Linked DNA regions of Homo sapiens. The protein of the gene in region 3 interacts with the protein of the main gene of each other region in a biochemical or structural test. Each region holds a gene or a part of one and is shown on either strand. Other genes may lie near its edges. The genes, in order: PDP1, FGF6, FGFR1 and KLB.

What was found.
Region 1: the proteins of FGFR1 (region 3) and PDP1 form a complex in vitro, tested with the Homo sapiens proteins (one study listed by BioGRID).
Region 2: the proteins of FGFR1 (region 3) and FGF6 interact in a biophysical measurement, tested with the Homo sapiens proteins (2 studies listed by BioGRID and IntAct, with this or other methods).
Region 4: the proteins of FGFR1 (region 3) and KLB interact in a biophysical measurement, tested with the Homo sapiens proteins (one study listed by IntAct).

Annotation. Positions count from the first base shown.
Region 1 is NC_000008.11:93,919,516-93,926,927, reverse strand, and holds the end of PDP1 (pyruvate dehyrogenase phosphatase catalytic subunit 1), read right to left. Parts: intron 5,702-7,412; exon of another isoform or gene 5,565-5,701; intron 4,913-5,564; coding exon of another isoform or gene 4,869-4,912; coding exon 3,255-4,868; 3' UTR 860-3,254; downstream 1-859. UniProt on the Homo sapiens protein: Mitochondrial enzyme that catalyzes the dephosphorylation and concomitant reactivation of the alpha subunit of the E1 component of the pyruvate dehydrogenase complex (PDC), thereby stimulating the conversion of pyruvate into acetyl-CoA.
Region 2 is NC_000012.12:4,442,401-4,450,586, forward strand, and holds the start of FGF6 (fibroblast growth factor 6 precursor), read right to left. Parts: upstream 3,416-8,186; 5' UTR 3,171-3,415; coding exon 2,825-3,170; intron 1,837-2,824; coding exon 1,733-1,836; intron 53-1,732; coding exon of another isoform or gene 41-52; exon of another isoform or gene 1-40. UniProt on the Homo sapiens protein: Plays an important role in the regulation of cell proliferation, cell differentiation, angiogenesis and myogenesis, and is required for normal muscle regeneration.
Region 3 is NC_000008.11:38,410,020-38,416,778, reverse strand, and holds the end of FGFR1 (fibroblast growth factor receptor 1 isoform 1 precursor), read left to right. Parts: intron 1-718; coding exon 719-909; intron 910-1,877; coding exon 1,878-2,000; intron 2,001-2,149; coding exon 2,150-2,220; intron 2,221-2,489; coding exon 2,490-2,627; intron 2,628-2,755; coding exon 2,756-2,861; intron 2,862-2,974; coding exon 2,975-3,151; 3' UTR 3,152-4,183; coding exon of another isoform or gene 4,184-4,390; 3' UTR 4,391-5,636; downstream 5,637-6,759. UniProt on the Homo sapiens protein: Tyrosine-protein kinase that acts as a cell-surface receptor for fibroblast growth factors and plays an essential role in the regulation of embryonic development, cell proliferation, differentiation and migration.
Region 4 is NC_000004.12:39,401,612-39,410,282, forward strand, and holds the start of KLB (beta-klotho), read left to right. Parts: upstream 1-5,318; 5' UTR 5,319-5,338; coding exon 5,339-6,163; intron 6,164-8,671.

The DNA.
Region 1 (7,412 bases), about 56 Mb from region 3:
ATGTGGGCAGATCACTTGAGGTCAGGAGTTTGAGACCAGTCTGGCTAACATGGTGAAATCCCGTCTCCACCAAAAATACAAAAGTTAGCCATGTGTGGTGGCACATGCTTGTAGTCCCATCTACTTGGGAGGCTGAGGCAGGATGATTGCTCAAACCCAGGATGCGGAGGCTGCAGTGAGCCGAGATCATGCACTCCAGCCAGGGCGACAGAGCAAGACTGTCTGAAAAAAAAAAAAAGTACATGTATGATTTATATAAATTTCTAGAAGCAAAATTATGGTGAGAGAAGTGGAATGATACTTATGAGGGGAGGGATTAATGGAAAGGGGCATAGGGAATTTTCTGAAGAAAAAGTTTTATATCTTTGTTGGGGTGTTACCAAATGTTACATCGCAAATTTTAAATCTGTGCATTTTGTTTAAATTATACCTCAATTTTGGCCAGGCATGGTGGCTCACACCTGTAATCCAAACACTTTGGGAGGCCGAGGCGGGTGGATCACAAGGTCAGGAGTTGAAGACCAGCCTGGCCAACATGGTGAAACCCCATCTCTACTAAAAATACAAAAATTAGCCAGGTGTGGTGGCCCGCACCTGTAGTCCCAGCTACTTGGGAGGCTGAGGCAGAAGAACTGCTTGAACCCAGGAGGCAGAGGCTGCAGTAAGATGAGATCGCACCACTGCACTCCAGCCTGGGTGACAGAGCGAGACTCCATCTCAAAAAAAAAAGAAAAAAAATTTTACCTCAATTTTTACAAATTTGAAGTACTATGTATCTACTGGGTCCTAAAATTAAATATAATCTACCACACATAGGAAGCATCTAATCAATCTTGTTATTAAAAACCAACACAGGACATTCAGAAAGCAGATATGAAGCTTTAATTCACCATAGGCATTTCTCCAACCATTCTGTACATTAAACTTTCATGTCTTCACACATATACATCTTTTATAAGACAGTTTTCTTAGCAATATGGTACTCTGTACCATACCAACATTCCATTTAACTAGTTAAGGGTGTATTATATAACATGAACCACTGATTAAATATAAATACAGAAGTTGAATACATAGGTTAGAAAGTTTAAATTTTAAAAAAATTTAAGAAAGGCTAAATACCATGAAAGTTTACATGTATTCTTTAATTCTAGACACCGTACAACAGTGACAACCAATTACAATAAAATCACAATTGCTTTTAGATGACAGTACTTTCAGATTTCTAATACCCAATTACTTTCATTTCCACAATGTCAACTTCATGCTGCATTTTCATTTCTATAGAGCAGACAAGCTTCCAGACTGCAGACCAAGTTTCTTGTGTAATAATACTACTATCTTGATCATGACCACAGGAAACCAATTTTATATTCCCTGTACTATAGAGATGAGACATTATTTGGTGTATATGAAACTCTTCAGTGGTGGTGTTCAAGAATATTCAAATAGTAGCTGAAAATAGGGTTTGCTAGAGCAGTCCACATATTTCATTAAAAGAAAAATGCCCAGTCAAAACATTTAGAAATAAATATATAGTACAGCCTTTCCCTCTCCCAAATACTACCCAGGAAAAAAGTTCCAAGCTGACTTAAAAAAAAAAAAACACACAAATAAAAACAAAAACACCTCAAAAAATAAACATTATATGATATTCTGAGCAGCAATCTTCCTGAGTCTATTTTCAATTGAAACAAATTCTGCAGCCAATAGTACACTGATTCAGTATCCACAGTCCAGAAGGAGTTCTTGAACATCTAGTTCATATCCCCAAAAAATGTGAAAAGACTCCTAAACACCCAAGTTATTACACAATGGGAAGCTGATATTGGCTTGTATTAAAATCCAGGTGAATATCAAACATAATCACAGCCTTAACAGTGATGCTAGAATAAGTGATGACAATATGTGCACAGCTGTATACAGATCACTATTAAACACAGGAACAAAATGCCACTTGATGCATATCAAAAAGCCAATTTGAATATATTTATTTCATTTACATTGATACAGTATTAGAAGGGACTGAATATAATTATGGAGACTGCTGCAAACATTTGATGCCACTAAGTATTCTATTAAGCATCAGGCATGCACAGTAGTTACCTTTTAAAGTTTCTCATGTATATATCTTAACACATATATCTTAAGCTACAATATGTTTAAAGCATTTAGTCATTTTAAACCCAAATATTTTAATTGACCTATGTCTAAATGGAGAAAAACAGAAACTTCCTCCTGTCTCAATACCCGATGGCAATATTAAACCTTACTCCCCAAATTGATATTTAAACTTATTTATGTCATCTTTAAAATTCCAAAAATAATGAAAAGTCTTATCATTACTAAATAAGAAGTACGATTCCCCGGCAGCAGTCTACCCACCACACACTTACGGCATGCCAAGCCTTTGGGGATTACATAAGAGTGATGTGCTGGTGGCTACAGATGACAATAATTGAAGAGATCAGTCTCTTCTTTTTATTCTGGATCTCCTTATTTTAAACTAAAGCTTTTCATTAATACAAATAAAAAAATCTTTTTTTCTTTCTTTAACTTCAATAGAAGAGTAGATAAAACTAAAAACCCTTATTGTCTCCAAGTGTGTGGCAAAATAGAAAATCTTTCAATTACATTAGGAAATCGGGTGGATAACGGAGTATAGTTATTCCACTTAAGAAGCATTCCAGTCAAATAATCACAAAAACAAATTCAGATTGCTTGGATCTTGGTCATTTATGGCTTGAAGAACTGGATTTGAAAACCACTTTAGGCTAAAATAAATGTATATGAATAATGCATAGACTGTGTATCTAGAAAATCATGCAATAAATATATGTTCTCATGTACACTGGAATCTCAGTGAAGAAAGGTGTGAACAGTACTGTTTCTTCACTTTAACCAAGAGACTACACACAGCAAGATACTTGCTTTTGGCCTATTCAAGATCTTATTTGCCAGGTCATCCTAATTTTCTCAGGTTGGTAAAAGAAGCTAATGTTTCAAGACACCTGTGATAAAGAAGTGACTTGCTTCAAGTGCAGGTGCCATGAAATCTGAGCTAGGCAGGACCAGACTCTCCTGACCCTGCCACCCTGCTGCAAAGTCAATTTGGAGTACCTGACTAGCTAGAGTATCAAAAGGGTAAATGCTTAGAATGACCAACTGGAAATGTTTATTATAGTAGTATCTTTTTAAAAAATCTGCCCTTTAAATGTATATCATTTGAGAATTGCCAGTGAAAGAGCCACTCACTATTCTTGGTTTTGATACGCCCCTACAACATGAGAATTGAACTGAACTACAATGATTGTAATGTCATCTCTGTACATTCGAGCAAGCTCTTCAGGAAGACTAAGCATTTTAGAGAGGCGCTCATGATCAACAGTCCCAAACTCGTTGTTGCCCACAGCGTGGCGAATGAGATGGGTTGCTGCGTTCTGATCCTCAAATACCGAGGACATTTTGGTTCTCCTTTCTGTTAAAAGGCCATGCATCTGTCCCAGAGTCACCTTGTAGCCACCAACAGCTATTGGCTGTTGGTGATGCATGCCAGTTAGGTACTCACCCACAATCCTAACCACATCCTGCCTATGCATAGTCTCCCACAACCCATCAGTAGCCAACACCAGAAACTTATCCTGTGGCCTTAATCGGTGGTAAGTTACCTCTGGCTCAGCAGTGAGATAAGGAGGTGTGTGATAATTAGGAGGAATAAACTTGGTATATTCATTGTCATTCAACTGGTCTGGGCCAGATTCTATCACTCTCTTTTGAAGGTCAATGCTCCATTTGAACTTTACATCTCCAAATGCCCTAAATGGCATCAGCAAGCCAAGCAGCCGATCCTGTTTCACGACACTCTTGGCCTCACTCTTTGGATGTTCCAATTTCAGCCGTTCTAGTTCTCTTTCATTTTGAGCATTGTGGTCATTAGACAGCGTGACTGCTGACCATGAGCCGTCCTCTTCCTGCACACCCAGCATGGCTCTGCTATCGCCAGTATTGGCCACATGAAGGTCAACACCATCCACATGGGCCACACAAGCAGTGGCTCCAGAAAATGCCACTCGAAGCACCAGGTAGTTGAGAAAAGAATTAGGATCACCAACTTGCGCCTCCAAGGAGATGTCATTATCAAGCCTCTTGAAGGCATTAATTAGAGCCTCCTTAACATCAATATCAGTCGACTCACCAGTGTTGAGGTCTATAAGCTCTTGCCAGTAAGTCCTCAAGCTGTTAAAGTACAATTTGGATGCCTCCTTACTAAAGTAATCATTGGGGTGCTTGTGCCACTGGAGAATGGGTAGCAGTGCCCGGCCGCTCTCCACTGCATTTTCAATCTCTAGCAAAGTCTCATGGGGTAACAAAGAGACAGCAATATAATAAAAGAGTCTTTCACTGACTGCCTGGGAACAAGCACAACCTGCATGGCCATCAAAAACCCCCAAAAGCATCCCTCTGGTCTGCAAGCAGGTTGCTGCACTTCTCCGGTCCTCAATGGGTGCATTTGCAGGCAGCTGATTGCTGTCAAATCCAAGGATAGAACTGACATTTTTGCCGTCAAATTCTGGCACTTTGAAACTGTATTCATTAGCTTTAAGGATGCTATTGACTTGTGGAGGTGTGAGGTAAAATTTCTGTGGTGTGGAAGCATATCTCCTTCCTTGGGTGTACTGCCACCAGTTCTCCTTTGGCCTGCAAAAGGTAGCATATGCTGGATGAGGTGTGTATCTCAGTCGACTCTGAGGAATGTACGATGAGGAACAACAGAGATGTTTGTGGTGGCAGTAACATGCAGTGCCATAGATCCTGCTCAGTTCACAGTTACGGATGAGAGGAAAAAACAGTTGAGTTGGTGCTGGCATGGCATCAGAGAACAGTGGCAGGCTGGAACTTCTGACTGGGATTCCTAGACAGCAAATTAGACAGATGTACACAAAGGAAAGAGTTACATTTCAGGATACTTAATCTAGCTTTGCCTTTATAACAAATATTAAGCAAGTCAATCTACATGTTAAGCCTTTGCTAGAAGGTACTACATTTTATACACACATCATGTACTATTTCTACAGGGTATATTCTGGCAGGCACAACTCCCAATCATTCGTGGAACCACGACTGAACTCCTGGCTCCTATACTCAAACTTCAATTTTCTCTTTTCTTTGTCGTCCTTTGTGCAGTACAAACTGTGCAGAATGTACAACAGATTTGGCTGGGGAAAGCTGAGGAGATGAAGGTTATATAACATTATGCAGTAGCCGTCTACCTGACCAATCATCCTTCTCCCTCCCTATTCTTAAAAAATGCCTTGAAATCTCCCATTTTACACAGGGACTTCTTCCATTTATGAAGACCCTTTACATAGACCTGTGGTCAATTTTTGGCATGATTACACATGGCTATGACCAAAAATGTTAAGAGGCAGCCAAACATATGTGTATTTATGAATTACGTGTACATCATATACATATATGACTACAGTAATATGCATTGTAACATATATAGAAAAATTTCTACATAATTAAATAAAAAAAGAAATTCCAGTATTTCTCTCCTGTACCCCAGTAGATGGTCTTGCAAAACTTGCTTCTCTAGTCCACTGTGGCAATTTGCCAGGCTAACGGGCATAGGTCTGCCACCAACTCCCAAATAATCTTGGAAAAGTCAGCTCACATCTTTGAGTCTCACTCTTCTAACCTGTAAAGGAACATCAACAGAGCAGATGCTATCTAAGGCTCTTCTAGGATTCATGCCTTTATGCTTATGGAAGTGAGGTTTTTAAATAAAATTCAGGTTTCATTTATTCACTGTTGAATTCTACCGTGCCCTTCATGATTAAAAAAAAAAAAAAAGTTTAAGTATTGCAGTAGCTCTAAAGCTTTGTTAGTAACATAAATGGTTTCAGTCCTAGAACTTAATTTACCTACTAACAATGTTCCCTGCTTAGCAGCTATAAGGAAAACCCATAGAAGTATTTTCATCTACTATGGATCCAAAGTAGAATTAACCCCTAGAAAAATGTTTTCTTGGATATGGTAATCACTCTGATTTGATCATTACACAATGTCTACCAATATATACATGCACTGAAACATCACATTGTACCCCATAAATATATAATATTATGTGTCAATTGTAAATTAAAAATAAATTTTAAAAGACCAAAAATGTTTTCTCTCACATTAAAAAAAAAAAAAAAAGGTATTTACTTGCTCCAGGGAAGCAGTATAGTCAAATAATAGTCTAAGGTTTGGATTGAAAAGGTACAGCAATATAATTACAAACTTAAAAAAAATCCTATCACTCACTATGTGCGCTGAAAATAATTTCTGGGCATTTATTTGGGAAATTTAATGAATATATCATTAATCTAGATAATTTGGGCAAGAAAAAAAATCCCTCTTCTTCCTCAATAACATATATTTTCCCTGAATTCTTGAGATACTGCTTCAAAATAGTCATTTGTACTATAAAGAAACACTTTGGAAATACTTTAAATAAACAAATGCAATAAACAAAAAGGAACACAGAAAATAAAACCATCTGAGTTAATAGCAACTATTCCTTCCCACGGCTAAACAAATATCATAGCATGTGTCAGCCATATATTATTTTCATGTACCTTTTTTGAAGAATAATTTGAGAAAAAGTAATAAATTGGGGTAGAGGGAAGCAAAGAAAACTAAACACTGAATAATCACTGATTCTTGTTTGTTTCTGTAATAAGCACTGCATAAGCCAGCCACACAGATTCTCTTCTGCAAGTAGTAGAAAGTACCATCATTTTAACTGCACTATCTAAGAAGGGATTTGTTTACGAAAATGAAGACAAGATCAGGCAATAGAAAGTAATGGCTAAAATTTTGGAAATAAGAATCCGTAACTAAAAAAGCATTCTGAAATGCACTAATGAAAAACAGAAATTCCAGAAAAACGGGAATCCATCAGGAGTAACCATTTAAATAAAAGAAATTCAAACTGAATACCTGAAAGTCATCCAGAGGTTAAGTGTACATGACTGAGCCAGAAGATGTGCTCAAATGTTGGGCCACATGACAGTGGCTTCCATACTTAAACCATATCTCTTTTTAGGTTTGCGTGCAGAAAGCATATCAACTCATTTTGTGCTTTGAATAAAGGTTTTCTATCATTAAAAATGTAAACTAATGTAATCTTAATGAATTTTTCTTCATAATTTTATGACTGCATTTGCTCTTTCTTTAAAACTTAAGAATCTTACAGAAAAAAACAATGAAAATGTGCCTGTATGGAACGTAAACTGACTCAAAATACTATTTGTGTGGGGGGGAGGGAGGGTTGATAGATGCATAACAGGGTTTGATTGTTTAATTAAGGAATAACAAGTCCTGGAAACCTGCACTTTCCTTAAATTCCTTTGCTTCGACAT
Region 2 (8,186 bases), on a different chromosome or scaffold from region 3:
TAAATTTCCTCTATATTTGTGCATTTTCTCCTCCCCACAATTAAATTCCTTTCTGGGTAGGAAGAAAAAAGTAATAAATGGTTTGTTGATAAAGGCGACAAGGAGAAAGAAGAGTTTATGAAATTTGTGCTTTCTCCCAGGAGATTTACTTGCTAAAACGTCCCTTGCTTGCATGGAGTCCCACAGCCAACAGCCTAAATTCCCGGCTCTCCCGACCCTATGGGCTTCCGGGCATTATGCAGGCTGGGAAGAAGGGGTTCTTTGGGATGCCCCACCCTACAGAGGGGAAACCTGCTCCATCAAAACCTGGGTTGGTCCCAGGCCTCTTCCTGTCCTCGCCATCACTTTCCCAGAGAGCGGTAACAAGGATATGTCTCTTCTGTCTCATCTCACTCGCCCTCCAGCTTTCAGGTTCAGTGTAACATGGGGAGTGGGTGGTCCCCTGCCCTCCAGAGGCCATGTAGCCTGCTGACCCCCAAGCCTGCCTGTTCCTCAGAAACACCTGGCAAATTTAAAATACAAAAACAAATGGATTTCCAGGCCCACACGCCAGCTCTGCTGAATAAGAATCTCCTAGGTAGGTACCTGGAAATCCATACTTTTAATAAGTTTCCAAGGTGACAGAGATGCAAACTGTCCACAGACCCGTGTGGGAGACCCACTGATTGTAGTGCATGCCGTATGTCCACATAAACCAACCCAGACTGAGAGATGTTAGCACTAAAGATTATGGGGTGGAGGCCACCTGGTGAACCCGTTCTTGTATTTCATAGACCTCCTCTGTTGGGACAGCTCCCCTGGGACCCAGTGCCAGTCCTGGATCTATTTCTTCACATCCCAGTCCTCAGTTTATCCTCCAAGGGGCAGTAGATCAGCTCTCCACACCCTCCCCATAAATAACTTTGATATTTTTTGAGGCCTGCTCTGAGGTCTTCCTTTTTAGCTTGCTTATTTCTGTCAAAGGAACTCTCCATTTCTTCAGCCTCATCGGGATGTTTGCCCCGCCATATTTTGGAATAAGCCAAATGATGGGCCGAGGGCTGCAGGAAAGAGTAGGTCAGTGAGAGCAGAGGTTTTCGTCAATGTGCTTAGAAGCTGGTTGCATTAACCCAAGTGCCAGCATTGGCACTCCCAGAGGTGACCTATGGGGGTGGGGATGGGAATGGGTGGGACTGGTACCAGCCTAAAGTGTATAACGGGTAGGCTGCTTCTCTAGCGTACGTGATCGGAGACCAGAGGATTGAAAACCCTAGTGCAGAATCTCAGCACACTGATGAGGATGAAAATAGCCTCCCATTCCACTCCTCCTGCTGCGCACGAGGCTGGGGCATCTTGCAGGGCGCGTGTCATGGAGCAGCGCACCCAGGCAGAGAGACAGACTTGCTCTCGGGGCCTCGCCAGTGCAGGGAATCACACCTGCTCACAAGCCTGGATGCCAGAATGTGGGTTTCCCTCTGGCCCACGGGCTCCCTGAGCTGTGGTTTCCGTTTAAGCACACGGGCTCCGGCCGGCAGGTGGGAACAGAAGAAGCACGGGCCAGGGCAGAGGACAATCACCCGTGAGGCTGAAGAAGCACAAGCTGCAAGGCCCCTCCCTTTCACAGGCTCCTCTCACAGCCTTTCCTTTCCCATTTAGATAGTCACTTCTCTACTCAGGACTTCATATTATTTTCTTCAACTGTGTAAGCATCAAGCCTTGTAAACCTGGCACTTCCCCGGCCTGGTGAACTCACCGTTGCGTACAATCTTCCTTTACTGTTCATGGCAACGAAGAGGGCACTTCTCACTCCAAAGAGACTCACCACGCCTCGCTCCACAGTGGAAATTTCCAGCAGGCCTGACAAGGAAAGGGGGGCCACATTACCTAAGGCTTGTGCAAATCAGAGTGGGAACTTGAGCCGACAAGGGCATCTCAGTCCATCCCCCTTCTCCTAGAAAGCCAGACTCTCCATTGCCCCATCCATGATCCCTCTAACTCTAGGAGACCCTGGCTGCTGGACTCATCGAGTGCTGCCATTGTGCTGTTAGAAATCCAGTTCTGCAAGGGAAGGTTCTGATAGCAGAGTTAGGGGCTGCAGTGACCACTTAGCTATCTGTTTAAGATGAGCTTTGAATCTGGGCTTTCAGTGACATAATTACTTGAGGTCCTTGACTTGAGTAAAAAAATAAATTCTGATTCTTCTTCTTCTTCTTAATGTGTACTCTACATGTTTCAACAAATCTCAACCCACTTAATCTTGAAAACACAGCAGCCACACCATAGCTGATGGCTTTCTTGGATCCTGCAGCCCCCATCCTTTCTTGGATAGGAGACTAACCATACAGCAAGCTGGCAGCTTGCAGGCAGCTTGCAGGATAAGAACCTGGGGACAGAGGGAGCCGCTGAAATAAAAAGAAGGATGTGCTTCAGTTGGACATTTTGCAATTGAATTTCCCTTCCTTCTCCAAGAAAGAAGCTGAATAAAAATGAGCTTGTGTCAAATTTGATCCAAGTATACTAACTGATTCTCCCTACCCAGGCCTTGGGGGCTTCCCAGACTAATGGTTCCTAATGGTCTTACAAGGCATCAGATGGGCCAGTAATGCTGAAATAGTTAGTGCCACTGAGGATCTAACCAAGGCGATGGCAAAGAACACCAGGATGCTTGGACCGCAGTATATTGAGCTTGCACCCAGGCAGGGTCACGTGGAATCATCTAAGTGGTGAGCAGCATTTCTGCCCCCTTTATCGTGCATCCTGTCCGCTAGAGCAGGGCCCCTTCACCTTTTAGCCCTGCATGAGCCCAAACCCCCAAGCGTCCCGACTGGCTGCAGCTGGCACTCACTGTAGGGGTTCTCCTCGTGGGTCCCGCTGATCCGGCCGTCGGGGAGCACCTGGAGGTGAAAGCCGATGCCCACGTTGCAGTAGAGCCTCCGCTGCCGCTTGATCCCCACCAAATAGCCACTTTCCCAGTTCACCCCGGCAATCTCTCCAGCTAGCCCGGCGCGAGACCTGGACAGCAGGGTGCCCCAGCCCCTCGAGTCCAGCAGCGTGTTGTTGGCACGGGTGCCTGCAGGCGAGGGCACCACCATGCCCACTAGGATGCCTAGGAAGACGAGAGCCCACAGCGTGCCCTGCAGACGTCCTGCTCCCCGGGACATAGTGATGAACAGTTTCTGTCCCAGGGCCATCCACCTTGCCTCTCAGGCACGTGGTCAGAATTAATGGCCCTAAAAATACCGCCCTTCTTGTTTTTCTCCCTCCGGCATGGCGGCAGGGGCTTATTTTTGGAAGGCAGATGAAGGCTGCTGACATGAAACCAAAGCCTCCATCGGGCACTCGGGTTGAGAGCAGAGGGACCCAGGCTGAGCCGCGGCCGGTAGAGACCATGGCTCGGGGACGCTCTCTAGCTCGCCCGCTTGCTCCGTCCCTAGTTGATGATATTTGATTTGACCTATCTTTATAGTTGCTTCAGCAGCCCGGCCCTCCCCTCCACCCATCATCGCCCTGACGTCAACCCGCCCAGCTCACTTATCCAGGGCTGTAACATTAACCTGCTCTTGGGCCTGGCTGCCTCCCCAGACCCCCATCACCCTCCACACTCCCCAGGGGTTCTGGGAGCCACTGTCATTCCAACTATGAGGCAGGAATGAAGTGAGCAGGGAGCATCTCTGGGGGAGGGGGGAGCTGGCTGGGGGCCCAGGGAAAGAGAGAGGCGAGAGGCCACCCAGGACCCATATTGGGCAGAAGTTCTTTGCCTGGCAGCGCTGGCTTCCTTATTTAGAGGGCAATAGGTAGAGGCAGGGATGGGAAAAGGCTTGTGGTAGTGATGACCGTAGCCTCAAGTCACCCTTGAGATCTTTTCATGGAAACAGCTCATGGTGGAGGGGAACACTGAAAGGCCAAACCCTTTCAGCAGGAGGGCACAGACATTCTCAGGGGGTGGGGATGGGGGTTGTTCAAGGAGCTTTAAGATTGTGGAGGGAAGGAGGGCAAGGGCAAGGTTTGCCTGCTCACTGTCCTGGTCCCGACATTCACCTGGGGTGGAAGTTGTGTCTGGCCTTTGACACAGCCCCCTGGCCATTCTCCCTGGATTTATCCCTGGCATGTGACTGATATTATTCCCATTTCACAGATGAGGAAGTTGAGGCTTAGAGAGGATAAATGACCTGCCCGAGTTACCATAGCTAATAAGTAGCAAAGCCAGAACTTCTAAGGTGTGCCTGAGTCTAAAGCCTGTGCATGTCTAATGCTTGCAGTAGAAGTTGGCTGGCCCATAGAGTCTGTTTAGCTCCTTAAATGCCAATAGCACATCACAGAGTTATTTCAGTAGCATAAAATGATTTATTTCTTAAAAAAAACTTGAGTGTCTTTGATGTACATGAGAACTTCTATATTTGCAGATAACTTTTGCTGGGCTGATATTACACTCAGAAACTAGTAAAAATATTTCTGCCAGGAAGTTATTCCTACACTGATTTATCTTATTCCCATATTACTTTTAAATAGATTACATGTCTAACTGAAGTGAGAAAAAAAATGTAAAGCTACCAGAAAACTCACTGCACAAATTTCTATACAATATAAGACAGAACTATTAATACGTCTCTGAGGGTGAATAAGTTAACAAGGGTCGCTGGGGAATTGAATTAACTTGAGTTAAAAATCCTGTTTCTTGTACTTCAATCCAGGCCTTAATCTGTTGGTGAGACATTAGCACTGATTTTGCCGGGATTGGAGAGAGTATGTGTGGGGTGATGACAGTGGCATACAGATGGATTTGAGTGTCCTGAGCAGTAGAGCTGGTCCCAGCAGGCAGCTCCCTTAGCCACACTCTACACCCACATTGCAGGCTGCAGGCAGCCTGGAAAAGCTCCTGGGGTGAGTTCCATGGCCCAAGGACTCTACTGAGGCACCACCGCCTTCCCTCTGATTCTAAACCTTCTGCTGTGCCCTGGGTCCCAGCCTCTGGTCTGTGGCTTCTACCTGCCTTCTCTCTGCCCTTCTGCCTCGTTCACTGGGTTCGATGCTTTGGTTCAAATTTCTGTCAAGCCATGTGTTTAGTGTTGCCCTAGACATGCCTTCTGAAATCCTGTGAAGCCCAGATGTCTGTCTTTACCCTCAGCTGGTAAACTGAATGGGGAGGGACATAGGCACCACTTGTTCCTACTGTCACCACGGCCCCCTGACTTCCCCATTGGCTTCCTCTCCCTTCCACTGCCGTTGTCCCATACCCAATCTCATCATCACCAGCACTGCCATTTCCCATGAGGAAAGATGATGCCTTATAGGCTCAGATTGAGTCTACTATGTAGGCCTTTGTTGGAAAACTGTTTTTAAAAATCCTTCTGCAAAGTAAAAGGTTCATGAATAATCCGAAGACAAAGTTGTCAACAAAAAGAACTTCACTTTGGATTTCCAGCTGGGTTTCATATAGTTAAGCTTTCATGGATGCAAGAGCAGTGGGGACACTTTCTCAGTGATGTTGTTTGGAATCTTGTGTTAATTATGCTGGTGGTCCTCACTTAGGGAAGAGACAGTCCAGAAACATGTTGGATGGTAAGGAGAAGTCAGTCTGAAGTTAACACTTGCCTTGGATAATCGGAGAGGTGCTCACCAGCAGAGCTCAGAATCTCTGTGGAATTTCTTGGAACCCATCCACTTTGGGACTGCCTTAGGAGAGAGATTAAACTATAACAAGGTCCATGTCATATACCAATAAAAATGGTAACGCTCCTTAGATTCATCTCTTCCTGGATTCCTCTCTGTGCAGAGGTTCTGGTTGATGTCTCATAAAGCAATGGGCTTTGGAATGGGGACACCTGGATTTGAATCTCAACTCCACCATTTAGTAGCTGTGTGACCTTAGGAAAGTTCTGGACCTCTCTGAGCTTATTTTGTCATCTGCAAAATGATATCATTACTTCCTAAGGTTGTTACAGTGACTAGCAATAATACATACAACTGGCCAGTGCAGAGCGCAGTATAGCTATTTCCCAGAAATTTCCCTGAAACACATTGAAAATCTCTCACCCAATTAAAGAGGACAAACCCAAAGTGAGAAAGACCATCTCTCATCTCACGGTGTGGGAGAGACACGTGGGCTTCCAGTTCTTCATTGCCATCCGCCACAGCATATGTTGTGATGGCTGCTAACATATGCAGAAGCAGGCAGCCCAGATTCCTCAAATGTTCTGAAAACCAGTGAGAGCCTTGGTGTCGTCCCCTGTTAAATTTAAAACTTAAGTAATTCATGCTATTAAAAAGCCTGGGTCTTATTTTTATCGGGTGATGCGATGAGGCCCTGTTCTGAATGTACCTCCCCTGCCTGTCTCTATAGCAACTTTACTGTGCTCATATAGCCATATATTTTTCCTGAAGGCTAATTAGGTTGACAACTGCTAGGTCTTCTTGGCTTACCAGATTTGCACTTGACCCTTCTCTTGGGGCTTAGGGACCCCTATGGATGTGAAGTGATAGAGAAAAGAGTAACAGGTGGAAGAGGCCTCTCTCCATGGACCCCTCTTGCAAATAGTTGGCCAACAGCCTTTGGGGATTGTCAATCACTCTCGCTGGATGAGCCAAGATCCAGTGGAGGTGAGTGGGAAAATACGTTAATGTCTATCTCCTCCCACAACAGGGTCCTTGTCCCCAAGGGGGATACCACAAAATACAGATTTGTCAGATTTGGCAATGCTTAGCCACACCAACCTTCCGCATCATCTGCATGGCAGAACTCCCTCCGTCACATCAGGTGGTTGCTCTCTGTGACTGCTGTGTGTTACATAATCAGGATCAAATGCCTGATGGGTGACCAAAAGGGAAAGCACATAAAACTCAGATGAGCCTCATCCACGTAGATTGTGAAAAGCTGTGCTTACTTGTACTTTTTACATTTGGTTTTGAAAAACTAGCATTTGCCTTTTTCTATAGATAATTTGGAAAATGTGGAAAATGATAAGGTGGAAAACAAAATAGCTGTTTGTGCTTAGTGTCTTTGTCTCTTTTGTCTCAAAGTCTGTCTTTGTGTGAGCTTGGCACAGCGGCCTTGAAGCCTCCCTGTATCTCCTCCCCATCTTGCTCAGACAGGCAGCTCTGCACCTATCCCTGGTTTTTTTAGTGGTAGAGATTGCTCACAGGATTTAATCGGCATGAGATGGACATGTGTAGAGATGAGGATCGAGGAAGGATTCCTGCCCTAGGCCTGAGCAAAGAGGGACATTTGCAGCTCATAAACTTGCTACATGAGGGAGAATTCAAGAGAAACAGTTTCAACTGATCAACAGTGTCCAGGTTGGACTTCCGCAAAGACAAGGCAGCCATTATCTTGCTAGCTATTCCCTGGGGAAACCTAAACTTTGTACTTTCCTAGTAGAACTCAACTTTTCCCAGGCCTCACCCACTTACACAGTGGGAGCCATTAACAGTTATAATCCACATTTCCCTAGTTCTTGCTTCTTCCAACTCATGTGGAACTTCACCCCACTACAAACCACCCCCAAGATATTTCTGCAGTTTCAGAGCATGTCTCACATATGTTCACGAGCATGTGACTGCTTCTGCCTGGGCACATTGCCAGGCACCTGCGTGGATCTCCCTGTTCTCCAGCCTTTCCACCTCCTGCTGGGCAGCCCGGGGGTGTTCCCTTTCTCACTATAGCTCAGCACCTGAAGCCCTCAAGGAGCCAGAACTGCTTTATGTTCTGTTTCAAAGCCAGGAAGAATACCTTAGTCCCCGTCTTCATGTTATACCTATTAAGGAAATACCTGGCCAGTACTACTCATGCCCTGGCAATCTGCTGATTTGAAGTTCTTTTCAGACTCCTTGCCCTGCAAAGGACTCAGTCTTGTTATGGGTTAAGCTGATCAGGTGGGATTCCCATTTCCTTCCATGTGGATTATTTTTCTGGAGGCCCCTCAACCCCTCAGACAAATACACTTCTGCTGGGGCCGGCCTATCTGCATTGTCTATATGTGTCTGAATCCTGGCTTGAGTTCAGACTGGAGACCCTGCCCCACTCCCAGAGACCCCTACAATGGGGAGGGAAGGAGCCCCTGAACACGCAGCTTTGTGGTCTGGTTGGTCACCAAGTATTTGCAGAGTTTTCTGGGAGAAAGATTCTCCTCTCCACACTAGCAGTCATCTTCTTGCGTTAAAGTGCTTCTTGATCTATCCCTTCAATCTGAGCCCCATGTGGCTGTGTCTCT
Region 3 (6,759 bases):
TCTCAAAAATAAAATAAATAAATAGGCCAGGCACAGTGGCTCACGCCTGTAATCCCAGCACCTTGGGAGGGTGAGGCGGGTGGATCACTTGAGGTCAGGAGTTGGAGACCAGCCTGGCCAACAGGTGAAACCCCATCTCTACTAAAAATACAAAAAGTAGCCGGGCGTGGTGGCGCATGCCTGTAATTCCAGCTACTCGGGAGGCTGTGGCAGGAGAATCGTTTGAACACGGGAGGCGGAGGTTGCGGTTAGCCGAGATCGCGCCATTGCACTCCAGCTTGGGCAACGAGCAAAACTCCATCTCAAAAAAAAAAAAAAAAAAAAAAAAAATTAGCCAGGCATTGTTCATGCCTGTAATCCCAGCTGCTTGGGAGGCTGAGGCAGGAGAATCACTTGAATCCAGAAGGCAGAGGTTGCAGTGAGCCGAAATTGCGCCACTGCACTCCAGCCTGGGCAACAGAGTGAGACTCCATCTCAAAATAAACAGACAAACTGGGGCTCTTACCCCAATGTTGCTCGGGAATTTTCTGGACTATGCTGGGAGTAATTATTTCTCTGATTTTTTTTGGGTAGTAGAATGGATTTCCCAGGTCCCCTAAGAGGAGGCAGGAGATGGGAGGTTGGCCGGGGTGTGCTGCTGGGGGTGGGGTTTCTTTGAGGTGAAGCCAAACCTGCTCACCTGCTGCTGGCCCCATGGCCTCTTCTCCTGTGCCTGCAGGTCCCTTGTATGTCATCGTGGAGTATGCCTCCAAGGGCAACCTGCGGGAGTACCTGCAGGCCCGGAGGCCCCCAGGGCTGGAATACTGCTACAACCCCAGCCACAACCCAGAGGAGCAGCTCTCCTCCAAGGACCTGGTGTCCTGCGCCTACCAGGTGGCCCGAGGCATGGAGTATCTGGCCTCCAAGAAGGTGTGGAACCTGAAGGCTCCCCTGGGTAATGCCAGGGTGGGAACAGAGCCCCCCTAGTCTTCCAGCCTGTGACTTATCATCTTGTGGTGGCGTTGTGGATGCACTGAGCACTGGCCCTGTGTGCCCTGTGTGTTGTCTTAGGCTCTCTGGGAACTGCAGAGTCAGGAGCACCAGTGTAGCCAGGTGGCCTTGGGGTCAGACTGATGCAGGGTCCGATCTGTGCACTGCCACTTTCTGCGTAGCCTCAGGCAGCTACTTAGCATCTTAAAATTCTTCAAATACAAAATAATAATAATATCAGCTGGGTGCAGTGGCCAAGGCGGGAGGATTGCTTGAGCTCAGGAGTGTGAGACCAGGTTGGGCAATATATTGAAACCCCGTCTTTAAAAAAAAAAAAAAAATTAAAAAATTAGCTGGGTGTGGTAGTGCGTGCCGATAGTCCCAGCTACTCGGGAGGCTGAGGTGGGAGGCTAGCTTGAGCCCAAGAGTTTGAGGCTGCACTGAGCCATGATCACACCACTGCACCCCAGCCGGGGCGACAGAGCAAGGCCCTGTCTCAAAAGAAAATAAAGTATAACAATACCTGTTGTAGAATTGTTATGAAGATAAAATGAAACTGTCTGTGAGTGTTGAGTGCAGTGTTTGGTGTGTAAGGGCTGGCCTGGTTTGAGCCCAGCCCCATGTGGACTTGCTGTGCTGGGAGGCAGGACCTAGGAGCATGCATCGCTGCAGACGCAGCAGAGGCATAAGGGGCCAGTCTTTGGGGAAGGAAGGGAGGAGCGCTTGCTGTGATGAGAAGCCTGGAGCTGGCAGAGAATGTTAGAAGAGGGAAAGCAAAGGTTCGGGGGGCAGAGCAGTGTGGCAGAAGTTCTATGAGACAAGTCGGCTAGTTGCATGGGTGGCGGCCGCCCAGAGCCTTCCAGCTCCCTCACCTCCCCGCCTCCCGCTCTCCCTTCCTCCTTCCTCAGTGCATACACCGAGACCTGGCAGCCAGGAATGTCCTGGTGACAGAGGACAATGTGATGAAGATAGCAGACTTTGGCCTCGCACGGGACATTCACCACATCGACTACTATAAAAAGACAACCAACGTGAGTGCCGACAAGGCCGCCCTGTGCTGGTGGTTTCATCTGAGAAGCAAGGAGTGGGGTGGGCTGAGAACCCACCCCCCAGTCCCTTCCCACCTGTGCCCTCATGGCCCTGCCTGGGGCCACTCCAACCTCCCCTGTGCTGCTTTCAGGGCCGACTGCCTGTGAAGTGGATGGCACCCGAGGCATTATTTGACCGGATCTACACCCACCAGAGTGATGTGTGAGTTTGTAATAGCAATTGCCAGGGAGGTGTGGGATAGAGAGCTTCTAGCACTGTAGAGTCCTGCTTTCTCCCTGGACTGAGGAGTCCTCTTTCTGCCCCAGAGAGAAAAACAAAACATTGTCTGTGGCCATTCCCTCTGCTCCAGATGTTGAAAGGCTGATCTGTTCTCCATGCTGTCTCCTGGCACTGCCCTGGGTAGAGGATTTGTGCTGGGGGAGGGGAGGCGGAGAAGCTCTAACACCCTGTGGCTCTCCGCCCATTTGCAGGTGGTCTTTCGGGGTGCTCCTGTGGGAGATCTTCACTCTGGGCGGCTCCCCATACCCCGGTGTGCCTGTGGAGGAACTTTTCAAGCTGCTGAAGGAGGGTCACCGCATGGACAAGCCCAGTAACTGCACCAACGAGCTGTAAGCCCGAGGAGATGTCGGAGGCCCTGAGCCAGGCCTTGGGGCAAGAGTGGGCTTGAGGGGCAGGGGGCTAGACTAGAGAGTATCCATCTCCAGGAGACGTCCCTGACCTTACAGTCCTGCCGCAGGTACATGATGATGCGGGACTGCTGGCATGCAGTGCCCTCACAGAGACCCACCTTCAAGCAGCTGGTGGAAGACCTGGACCGCATCGTGGCCTTGACCTCCAACCAGGTAAGGCTGCCCGTGCCAGAGCCAGAGCTCAGGCCGTCCCCACTGCGTGCACGCACCTCCCTGAGCAGGGAGGAGGGGCCCGGCCCATCGCTGCTTCCTCTCGCCCATCACAGGAGTACCTGGACCTGTCCATGCCCCTGGACCAGTACTCCCCCAGCTTTCCCGACACCCGGAGCTCTACGTGCTCCTCAGGGGAGGATTCCGTCTTCTCTCATGAGCCGCTGCCCGAGGAGCCCTGCCTGCCCCGACACCCAGCCCAGCTTGCCAATGGCGGACTCAAACGCCGCTGACTGCCACCCACACGCCCTCCCCAGACTCCACCGTCAGCTGTAACCCTCACCCACAGCCCCTGCTGGGCCCACCACCTGTCCGTCCCTGTCCCCTTTCCTGCTGGCAGGAGCCGGCTGCCTACCAGGGGCCTTCCTGTGTGGCCTGCCTTCACCCCACTCAGCTCACCTCTCCCTCCACCTCCTCTCCACCTGCTGGTGAGAGGTGCAAAGAGGCAGATCTTTGCTGCCAGCCACTTCATCCCCTCCCAGATGTTGGACCAACACCCCTCCCTGCCACCAGGCACTGCCTGGAGGGCAGGGAGTGGGAGCCAATGAACAGGCATGCAAGTGAGAGCTTCCTGAGCTTTCTCCTGTCGGTTTGGTCTGTTTTGCCTTCACCCATAAGCCCCTCGCACTCTGGTGGCAGGTGCCTTGTCCTCAGGGCTACAGCAGTAGGGAGGTCAGTGCTTCGTGCCTCGATTGAAGGTGACCTCTGCCCCAGATAGGTGGTGCCAGTGGCTTATTAATTCCGATACTAGTTTGCTTTGCTGACCAAATGCCTGGTACCAGAGGATGGTGAGGCGAAGGCCAGGTTGGGGGCAGTGTTGTGGCCCTGGGGCCCAGCCCCAAACTGGGGGCTCTGTATATAGCTATGAAGAAAACACAAAGTGTATAAATCTGAGTATATATTTACATGTCTTTTTAAAAGGGTCGTTACCAGAGATTTACCCATCGGGTAAGATGCTCCTGGTGGCTGGGAGGCATCAGTTGCTATATATTAAAAACAAAAAAGAAAAAAAAGGAAAATGTTTTTAAAAAGGTCATATATTTTTTGCTACTTTTGCTGTTTTATTTTTTTAAATTATGTTCTAAACCTATTTTCAGTTTAGGTCCCTCAATAAAAATTGCTGCTGCTTCATTTATCTATGGGCTGTATGAAAAGGGTGGGAATGTCCACTGGAAAGAAGGGACACCCACGGGCCCTGGGGCTAGGTCTGTCCCGAGGGCACCGCATGCTCCCGGCGCAGGTTCCTTGTAACCTCTTCTTCCTAGGTCCTGCACCCAGACCTCACGACGCACCTCCTGCCTCTCCGCTGCTTTTGGAAAGTCAGAAAAAGAAGATGTCTGCTTCGAGGGCAGGAACCCCATCCATGCAGTAGAGGCGCTGGGCAGAGAGTCAAGGCCCAGCAGCCATCGACCATGGATGGTTTCCTCCAAGGAAACCGGTGGGGTTGGGCTGGGGAGGGGGCACCTACCTAGGAATAGCCACGGGGTAGAGCTACAGTGATTAAGAGGAAAGCAAGGGCGCGGTTGCTCACGCCTGTAATCCCAGCACTTTGGGACACCGAGGTGGGCAGATCACTTCAGGTCAGGAGTTTGAGACCAGCCTGGCCAACTTAGTGAAACCCCATCTCTACTAAAAATGCAAAAATTATCCAGGCATGGTGGCACACGCCTGTAATCCCAGCTCCACAGGAGGCTGAGGCAGAATCCCTTGAAGCTGGGAGGCGGAGGTTGCAGTGAGCCGAGATTGCGCCATTGCACTCCAGCCTGGGCAACAGAGAAAACAAAAAGGAAAACAAATGATGAAGGTCTGCAGAAACTGAAACCCAGACATGTGTCTGCCCCCTCTATGTGGGCATGGTTTTGCCAGTGCTTCTAAGTGCAGGAGAACATGTCACCTGAGGCTAGTTTTGCATTCAGGTCCCTGGCTTCGTTTCTTGTTGGTATGCCTCCCCAGATCGTCCTTCCTGTATCCATGTGACCAGACTGTATTTGTTGGGACTGTCGCAGATCTTGGCTTCTTACAGTTCTTCCTGTCCAAACTCCATCCTGTCCCTCAGGAACGGGGGGAAAATTCTCCGAATGTTTTTGGTTTTTTGGCTGCTTGGAATTTACTTCTGCCACCTGCTGGTCATCACTGTCCTCACTAAGTGGATTCTGGCTCCCCCGTACCTCATGGCTCAAACTACCACTCCTCAGTCGCTATATTAAAGCTTATATTTTGCTGGATTACTGCTAAATACAAAAGAAAGTTCAATATGTTTTCATTTCTGTAGGGAAAATGGGATTGCTGCTTTAAATTTCTGAGCTAGGGATTTTTTGGCAGCTGCAGTGTTGGCGACTATTGTAAAATTCTCTTTGTTTCTCTCTGTAAATAGCACCTGCTAACATTACAATTTGTATTTATGTTTAAAGAAGGCATCATTTGGTGAACAGAACTAGGAAATGAATTTTTAGCTCTTAAAAGCATTTGCTTTGAGACCGCACAGGAGTGTCTTTCCTTGTAAAACAGTGATGATAATTTCTGCCTTGGCCCTACCTTGAAGCAATGTTGTGTGAAGGGATGAAGAATCTAAAAGTCTTCATAAGTCCTTGGGAGAGGTGCTAGAAAAATATAAGGCACTATCATAATTACAGTGATGTCCTTGCTGTTACTACTCAAATCACCCACAAATTTCCCCAAAGACTGCGCTAGCTGTCAAATAAAAGACAGTGAAATTGACCTGAGAGAAAATGAAATGGCCGTTTTACTTAGAGGACCAAATTGGGTCTCCTGAGGAAAGGAATCCAGTTTATCTAATGAAGATGTTGTGCCATGAAGGCACTGAGTCTGTCTGGTTTCCTGAGGGTTAAAAGATTAGGGCTGGGATCACCACAGCATTAATCAATACTGCCTTTCCGTCTCTTCTAATTGCCATAGGCTGGAGATCATCGGTCCCTTGGCCCTGCTAATGTAATGTATTGATCTCAGGTAAGTAAGATTGAGCATCAAATGAGGCAAGAAATCTGTCTCATTGTTAATGAGGTTGCTGTGCTTATTCGCCACCACTGGGTGGAGCCAGCGAGCTGAAGTTTCAGTTGGCATTAGGTGAAGCACCAGTCCGCTCTCAAGTCACATTGGTCCAACTACTACCTGCTAGTGTGTGCTGGTGGTGAGTGGGAAATCTTTAGCCTAGATTTGGCATTACAGAAAAACTGGGCAGCACTGATGTGGCTCGTTTTGGGATGATTTTAGAATTAGACATGACACAGGTGCAAGGCCCTAAGTGTCAGTGGCCACCACCTCTCTATTGTAGCAGAATTGTGTGTAAGACCCAGGACACATCTAGCATCACTGTAGTTGGGTTTTTAGAGAATGCCTAAAGTGGCCAGGCATGGTGGCGCATGTCTGTAATCCCAGCACTTTGGGAGGCTGAGGCAGGCAGATCACCTGAGGTCGGGAGTTCAAGACCAGCCTGGCCAACATGGTGAAACCCCATCTCTACAAAAATACAAAAATTAGCCAGGCGTGGTGGTGCATGCCTTTAATCCCAGCTACTCCAGAGACTGCGGCAGGAGAATCGCTTGAACCCAGGAGGCAGACGTTGCAGTGACAAGATCGTGCCACTGCACTCCAGCCTGGGTGACAGCAAGACTGTCTCAAAAGAAAAAAAAAAAAAAAAAAAAAAATCTAAAGTCATACCCAATGAGATCATTAGTGGCAGGTAGAGCCAAGGCATCTGCATCTATAGAGAAGGGAGCAGAGAGGAGAAAGCTCTGAAACAGCTGGCACAGCCTTCCATTCCCTCCACTGAGGAGAGCCAGGGAAGAAGGTGGTCAGTAAGAACCCAACTGCTAAGACTTGG
Region 4 (8,671 bases), on a different chromosome or scaffold from region 3:
AGTACTTTGGGGGGCTGAAGCAGGTGGATCACTTGAGGTCAGGTGTTCAAAACCAGCCTGGCCAACACAGTGAAATCCCATCTCTACTAAAAATATAACAATTCTCCTGAGGCAGGAGAATCACTTGAACCTGGGAGGTGGAGGTTGCAGTGAGCCGAGATCACGTCACTGCATTCCAGCCTGGGTGACAGAGCGAGACTCTGTCTCAAAAACAAACAAACAAAAATAGCCAACTGTGATGGTATGCGTTTAAATAATCCCAGCTACTTGAGAGGCTGAGGCAGGAGAATTGGTTGAACCCAGGAGCCAGAGGTTGAAGTGAGCTGAGATCACGTCACTGCATTCCAGCCTGGGCGACAGAGCAACACTCTATCTTTAAAAAAAAAAAAAAAAAAAAAAAAAAAATATATATATATATATATATATATACATACACACACATATATACTTTTCATGAGTATTGTGCAAACTTACATTGCAATCAACAATCTAATCAACACTGGTTTTCATCACTTATCATTTTTATTTTTGCTAATTTTATAAGATAAAATATTGACCAGGCACGGTGGCTCATGCCTGTAATCCCAGCACTTTGGGAGGCCAAGGCAGGCAGATCACCTGAGGTCAGGAGTTCGAGACCAGCCTGGCCAACATGGTGAAACCCTGTCTCTACTAAAAATACAAAACTTAGCCGGGAGTGGTGGCAGACACCTGTAATCCCAGCTACTCGGGAGGCTGAGGCAGGAGAATCACTTGAACCTGGGAGGTAGAGGTTGCAGTGAGCCTAGATCGTGCCACTGCACTCCAGCCTGGGTGACAGATCAAGACTCCATCTCAAAAAAAAAAAAAAAAAAGATTAAATATTATATACCTCTTTTTATGTATGTTTCTAATTACTCATGGTTTAATTTTTTATTAGCCACATTTTTCACTAGTTGCATTTCCTCTTTTGTGTATTTTTAAATTCATGTTGTTTGGCCATTTATCTGTTAGAGATTTAGTGGCTTTCTTGTTGATTTGCATGAATTACTTATGGCCATTTGCCTTACTTTGGCCATTTGCCTTCTAGATTTGCTTTGACATTTTCCAAGTTTGTTATTTGCCTTTAAATTTTATTTTTTATATTTTAATTATAAATTATTTATATATCATCATATGTAAATAGAATAATATATATAATCTACACATTTACATAATTTAATATTTACTTCTGTTTTCTTTAATTTTCTGTGGCTATATTTTTTAAATTGTGGTAAAATCAAGTAATATGAAATGTACCATCTTAACCATTTCTGTGGTTATACATTTTTGAATTAAATATATTTGTGAGGATCTAAGATATTGCATTTAAAATTTTATTTTCATAAATAGTAATGTACCAACTCCATTCATTCAATAGATAATTATTAATCATTTACTCTGATAAGCAATTATAAACATTTAGATAGGAGATATTCTTACAGTGTGGTGGAGGAGACAAACAACTCCAGGATTATGTGATAAATGCAGTGATAGAGGTATACATAGTCTACTATAGCTACTTTTTTTTTCTTAGTAGAGATGAATTCTCACTATGTTGCCCAGGCTAGTCTTGAACACCTGAACTCAAGCGATCCTCCTGCCTCAGCCTCCCAAAGTGCAGGGATTACAGGTGTGGGCCCTCATGCCCAGCCTACTATAGATACTCTCATTCATTCAGTAAATACTTTAGTGACTGCTATATGTCAAGTACCATGCTGGGCCACAGACAATCAACAGGGAACCAATCATGGTCCCTGTTTTGGTTTTTAAAAAAGAGAGAGAGAGAGAGAAACAGAGAGAGAGAGAGAAAACTTACACTCAAACAGAGGATACAGATACATTTATTGTGTGGTTAGCTGATTTATTGTGTGTCATAATAGAGAAAACATGGGCTGCCATGGGAAAACAGAAGATCCATCTAAATCCAATCAGGCTAGGGAGTCATAGGGAGTCAGAAAGGCCTTACTAATGCAGGAACAGAAGACCAAATACCGCAGGTTCTCACTTATAAGTGGGAGCTAAATGATGAGAACACCTGGACACATAGAGGGAAATAACACACTGGGGCCTATCAGAGGGTGGAGGGTCGGAAGAAGGAGAGGATCAGGAAAAAAAAACTAATGAGTACTAGGCTTAATACCTGCCTGCTGAAATAATCCATACAGCAAACACCCATAACACAAGTTTACGTATGTAACAAACTTGCACGTGTCCCTGAACTTAAAAGTTAAAAAAAAAAAAAAAAAAAAAAAGACGGCCGGGCGCTGTGGCTCACGCCTGTAATCCCAGCACTTTGGGAGGCCGAGACGGTCGGATCACGAGGTTAGGAGATCGAGACCATCCTGGCTAACACGGTGAAACCCCGTCTCTACTAAAAATACAAAAAACTAGCCAGGCGTGGTGGCGGGCGCCGGTAGTCCCAGCTACTCAGGAGGCTGAGGCAGGAGAATGGAGTGAACCTGGGAGGCGGAGCTTGCAGTGAGCCGAGATCCCGCCACTGCACTCCAGCCTGGCAGACAGAGTGAGACTCCGTCTCAAAAAAAAAAAAAAAAAAAGATAGACATGAGCTAGATGAAGGGAGAAACATACTCTGTGCAGAGAGCACACATACCAAGGTACAGGGCTACAAGTTAGCAGGCTGTGTACCCCTTAGTCAACTGAGAGAAGTGAAGCTAAAAATGTGGGCAGGAGCCAGAACAAATTGTCTTTTATGCTAAATCCTGGCATCATGTCCTGAATAATCTTTCCCTTTCACACAAAAATAATATTAGCACATAACTTACTATGTGTCAGTCTCTGTTCCAAGTGCCTTACATGTACTGGCTCATTCGTTTCTATATTCCAGAGAAAACCATTTGGTTCAGTGTATTAACTCGTTTAATTCTCACAATAATCCATGAAGTGCATATTATTATTATGCCTTTTCTTAAAGAGGAAACTGAGGGCAAGTTACACAGCTATATTTAAACTCAGGCAGTCTGCCTCTAGAGGCTCAATCTCTCTTTTTTTTTTTTTTTTTTTTTTTTTTTTTTTTTTTTTTTTAGACAGAGTTTTGCTCTTGTTGCCTAGGCTGGAGTGCAATGGCGCGATCTCGGCTCACTGCAACCTCCACCTCCCGGGATCAGGCAATTCTTCTGCCTCAGCCTCCCGAGTAACTGGGATTACAGGCATGTGCCACCATGCCCAGCTAATTTTGTATTTTTAGTAGAGATGGGGTTTCACCATGTTGGTCAGGCTGGTCTCGAACTCCTGATCTCAGGTGATCCAGCCGCCTCGGACTCCCAAAGTGCTGGGATTACAGGTGCGAACCACTGTGCCGGGCCTCAATCATCTTTTTTTAGAGGTGAGGATAGTCTCACTATATTGCCCAGGCTGGTCTCAAAACTCCTGGCCTCAAGCAGTCCTCCCCACTTAGCCTCCTAAGTAGCTGGGATTATAGGTGTGAGCCACCTCATCTGGCACAGAGACCAAACTATTAACCACTCTGCTTCTCATTCATATGTGATACTTCAAATATTTAAAACATTTATTTATTTATTTATTTATTATTTTTTGAGACAGAGTCTCATTCTGTCACCCAGGCTGGAGTGCAGTGGTGCAATCATGGCTCACTACAGTCTTGACCTCTTGGGCTCAAAGCAATCCTCCCACCTTGGCCTTCTAAAGTGCTGGGACTACAGGCATGCACAACCACACCCGGTTAGTTTTTAATTTTTTTTGTAGAGATGGGGCCTTATTATGTTCCCCAGGCTGTAAAACATTAAATTTTTTACAGGTTATTTGGAGGCTATCGATTTGGTACAATATTTCTTTCTGTATGTGCATGTATTTCTTTCTGTATGTTTATCTTTATTCCAGAATCATGCTGAAGGTAGTCTATGCCTTTGCTATTTTCTTTTTCAGGTTTTTCTTTCCTTTTTAAAAATAAATATTGCCTATTCTTCAAGGGAACTTTCATAATAATTTTCTCTTTTTTTTTTTTTTTTTATTTTGAGACCGAGTCTTGCTCTGTTGCCCAGGCTGGAGTGCGGTGGTGCGATCTCAGCTCACTACAACCTCCACGTCCCAGGTTCAAGAGATTCTCCTGCCTCAGCCTCCCAGGTAGCTGGGATTACAGGTGCCCACCACCGTGCCCAGCTAATTGTATTTTTAATAGAGACGGGGTTTCAACATGTTGGCTAGGCTGGTCTCAAACTCCTGACCCCAAGTGATCTGCCTGCCTTGGCCTCCCAAAGTGGTGGGATTATAGCCATGAATCACTGTGCCTGGCCTTTCGTAATAATTTTCTTGAACTAAAATTTGGGATTAGGCCAGGCATGGTGGCTCACACCTATAATCCCAAGCACTTTAGGAGGCCGAGGCAGAAGGGCTGTTTGAGCCCAGGAGTTCAGGACCAGCCTGGGGGACATAGCTAGACCCCACCTCTACCAAAAAATCAAAAATCAGCTGGGCATGGTGGCATGTGCCTGTTGTCCCAGCTACTTGGAGGCTGAGGAGGGAGGATTGCTTAAGCCTGGGAAGTTGAGGCTGCGGTGAGCTGTGATGACACCACTGCACTCCAGCCTAGGCTACAAAGCAAGACTCTTATTAAAAATTAATTAATTAATTAAAAAATTAGAGATTAGAGAATTTTAGTTAAGTTAAATAAATAAAATAAAAAATAAAATTAGAGATTAGAGGATTTTAGTTAAGTTAAATGTATTAAATTGAAAAGTATTTCATTTTTCCATCCACAAAGTGCTATATTTTCTCATTCAAGTCTTCTCTCAAATCTACCAATACATTTTTGCAATTTTCCTAAAATAGGTAACATTTATTAAGATTGTTCTTAGATGCGTTATAATTTTGTGGAGAAGTGTAATTTCTTATTGTGTTTTCTAATTCTTTACTATTGGTATGTAGGAATGCTATATACTTGTATATGTTATTTTTCTTGATATATGAGATTATAAAATTACCACACAAAAACTCTAAAAATAGAAAAGCTATATACCTTATTCAATAATGTTCAAAACATTCAGAAAAGATTTGGGTCAATATGAAAGGCTACACGGAAAATAATGTGATTTTAATCCAGTGTTTACATATGTGTTAGTTACACATTCAAACTCTTGTCACCGATGCATTTTCATCTAATTTTTTCCATAATGAGAGAGAAGGAGACGCGTTGGTGACTGCAATAGGGCCACCTCCCTCAAATTACGTTGCTCTCTATGACCCATCCTCAGTCTCCCAGTTCAAGCTAATCATTGACAGAGCTTTACAATCACAAGCTTTTACTGAAGCTTTGATAAGACAGTCCAGCAGTTGGTGGCAAATGAAGCCAGGCTGTGCGGCAGGATCTCCAGGGAATGAATGGATTTTCTTCAGCACTGATGAAATAACCACACGCTATAGGAATACAATGTCCAACGGGGGATTGCAAAGATCTGTCATCCTGTCAGCACTTATTCTGCTACGAGCTGTTACTGGATTCTCTGGAGATGGAAGAGCTATATGGTCTAAAAATCCTAATTTTACTCCGGTAAATGAAAGTCAGCTGTTTCTCTATGACACTTTCCCTAAAAACTTTTTCTGGGGTATTGGGACTGGAGCATTGCAAGTGGAAGGGAGTTGGAAGAAGGATGGAAAAGGACCTTCTATATGGGATCATTTCATCCACACACACCTTAAAAATGTCAGCAGCACGAATGGTTCCAGTGACAGTTATATTTTTCTGGAAAAAGACTTATCAGCCCTGGATTTTATAGGAGTTTCTTTTTATCAATTTTCAATTTCCTGGCCAAGGCTTTTCCCCGATGGAATAGTAACAGTTGCCAACGCAAAAGGTCTGCAGTACTACAGTACTCTTCTGGACGCTCTAGTGCTTAGAAACATTGAACCTATAGTTACTTTATACCACTGGGATTTGCCTTTGGCACTACAAGAAAAATATGGGGGGTGGAAAAATGATACCATAATAGATATCTTCAATGACTATGCCACATACTGTTTCCAGATGTTTGGGGACCGTGTCAAATATTGGATTACAATTCACAACCCATATCTAGTGGCTTGGCATGGGTATGGGACAGGTATGCATGCCCCTGGAGAGAAGGGAAATTTAGCAGCTGTCTACACTGTGGGACACAACTTGATCAAGGTACTGTACAGCTAGCTTCTTCTTATAGCTTCAGAAAACACTAAGAATTTAAGAATTTACCTTCTGCCTCAGTAATTCTCTTCACTGAAATCAAGGCAACTGATTTTAAGCTAATTCAAAAGATCTATCCTCAAATTTTGCATTTAAGTTAGTGTATGTTTTATTTATCTAAGGTATTTTTAATGTATTAATCCAATTAGTTTTTTCAAAAGTTGCACTTTGAGGCTATTTTTAAATCTACCATTATACACTACAGTGTGAATATATGAGCTTACTTTCATTCTGTGGGAAAACAGTGCTTCATAAATTTAATTGTTGGAACCCTTTTCTGACAACATGCAATCATTTCAGAATTATCTTAAGGCACAACCATTTCAAATATGTATTTGTTGTTAAGTATAGCTAACTTAGCTAATAAGTAAATAAAGTAAGTAAATAAGTAAGCCAAATAAATGTTAGCTAACTCATGCATATTAAATACAGAAATTTAAATATACTTCACTTTTGATTTTATTTGTGTTACATAGCAAAAAAGAGAAGATTAATTGTTATGGGAGCTAAACACATTTCTTCCCATAAGAACTGGGAAGAATGTGCTCTACTAAAGCAATTTTCAAGCAATATATTTCAAAAGCTAGAGATAATGTTGAGAAATGTTAAAATTAGTAAAACAATAGTGAAAATACAAGCAAAATAATAGGTAATAATTACTGAGTACTTATTATGTACCACAGACTACATTAAGTATTTTACATGCATCGTTACAGTTGATCCTCTTAACAGCCTTTTGAACTAGTTTTATTATTCTTCCCATTTAAAAGATGAGGAAACTGAAGCTTAATGAGATTAAATAATTTTCCCAAGGTTAAGGAGTAAAATACAGCTGTTGTGGACATGGATTTTTTAAATGACAACATAATTAACACTAACTGTCTTCATTAAGAATGCTTTGAAAAGAAGACTCAGGAATTTGCAAGAGATTTAGCCTCACATTGAGGCTAATATCTAGAATCGAATTTAACTTTTTGAGTCAAATAGTTTACTTAGGAAAAATAAATTATTCTGCACACCTGTTACATTTTAAAAATGAAAAAACTTTATCAATATAATTTTATAATGTGCTACAAAAAGTAATTTAATTATTAATAATCAAAAGCTAAATATACAGAAGTAGAAAAAAAATACAGCAACATAAAATAATTCCATGTCTAAATTTGTACATACAAAAATATCTGCTATCACTTCTTTTCTTTTTGAACTTTTCTGGATTATTACACATGTGCATTGTACTATGGTTTCAGATACATCTGCCCTTGAGGTAAACAGATTGCATTATGATTTCAAGGTCATTTGCATATCTTTGACTAGAGTTGTATATAGAACATATTAATGTGTGGGTATACTGTGATTTGACAAAATAAGACCTTAAAGGGTAGAAATTGTATAGGTATTTAACAGTTATCAAGATTATGCATACAAAAGTTAGAAAAATATTCCTCTCATTTAGTCCTTTTAATTTTCTTTTTTTTTTTTTTTGAGACAAAGTCTCACTCTGTCACCCAGGCTGGAGTGCAATGGCGCAGTCTTGGCTCACTGCAATCTCCACCTCCCAGGTTCAAGCAATTCTCCTGCCTCAGCCTCTTGAGTAACTGGTACTACAGGCACATGCCACCAGCCCAGTTAATTTTTGTGTTTTTAGTAGAGAGGGGTTTCACTATGTTGGCCAGGCTGGTCTCCAACTCCTGACCTCATGATCCACCTGCCTCAGCCTCCCAAAGTGCTGGGATTACAGGTGTGAGCCACTGCGCTCAGCCAGTCCTTTTAATTTTTAAAACAATTCATGCTCATGTACATTTAAAAATATCAGATTGGGCCGGGCACAGTGCCTCATGCCTGTAATCCCAGCACTTTGGGAGGCCAAGGCAGGTGGATCACAAGATCAGGAGTTTGAGACCAGCCTCGCCAACATAGTGAAACCCTCTCTACTGAAAACACAAAAATTAACTGGGCGTCGTGGCACGTGCCTATAGTCCCAGTTACTCGGGAGGCTGAGGCAGGAGAATCCCTTGAACCCGGGAGGCAGAGGTTACAGTGAGCCGAGATCACGCCACTGCACTCCAGCCTGGGCGAGAGTGAAACTCTGTCTCAAAAAAATAATAAATAAAAAATAAAAATATCACATTGTACCAAAGGATCTAAAGTGAAAAAGTTAAATCCCTCTCCCTCTCTTCACCTGACAATCCCAGGCCAAGGACGCTACTGTTAATAGTTTCTTATACATTCTTTTTAAAGTTTTCTATGCAAATACATGCATGAATATGTTTATTTAACCTTTGTATAAAGAAAAATATTCTAAATTGTTGAAAAGTCATTACCTGGAAAAATGTCAACAATTAGAGTTTTCATGAAAATGTATTTTAAGGATTAAAGCCTTAAAATTGGCTGATAAGAATAAACAGGCAAAAAGCTTTAACAGATATTGCTTCCAAACATAGTTGATAAAATGAC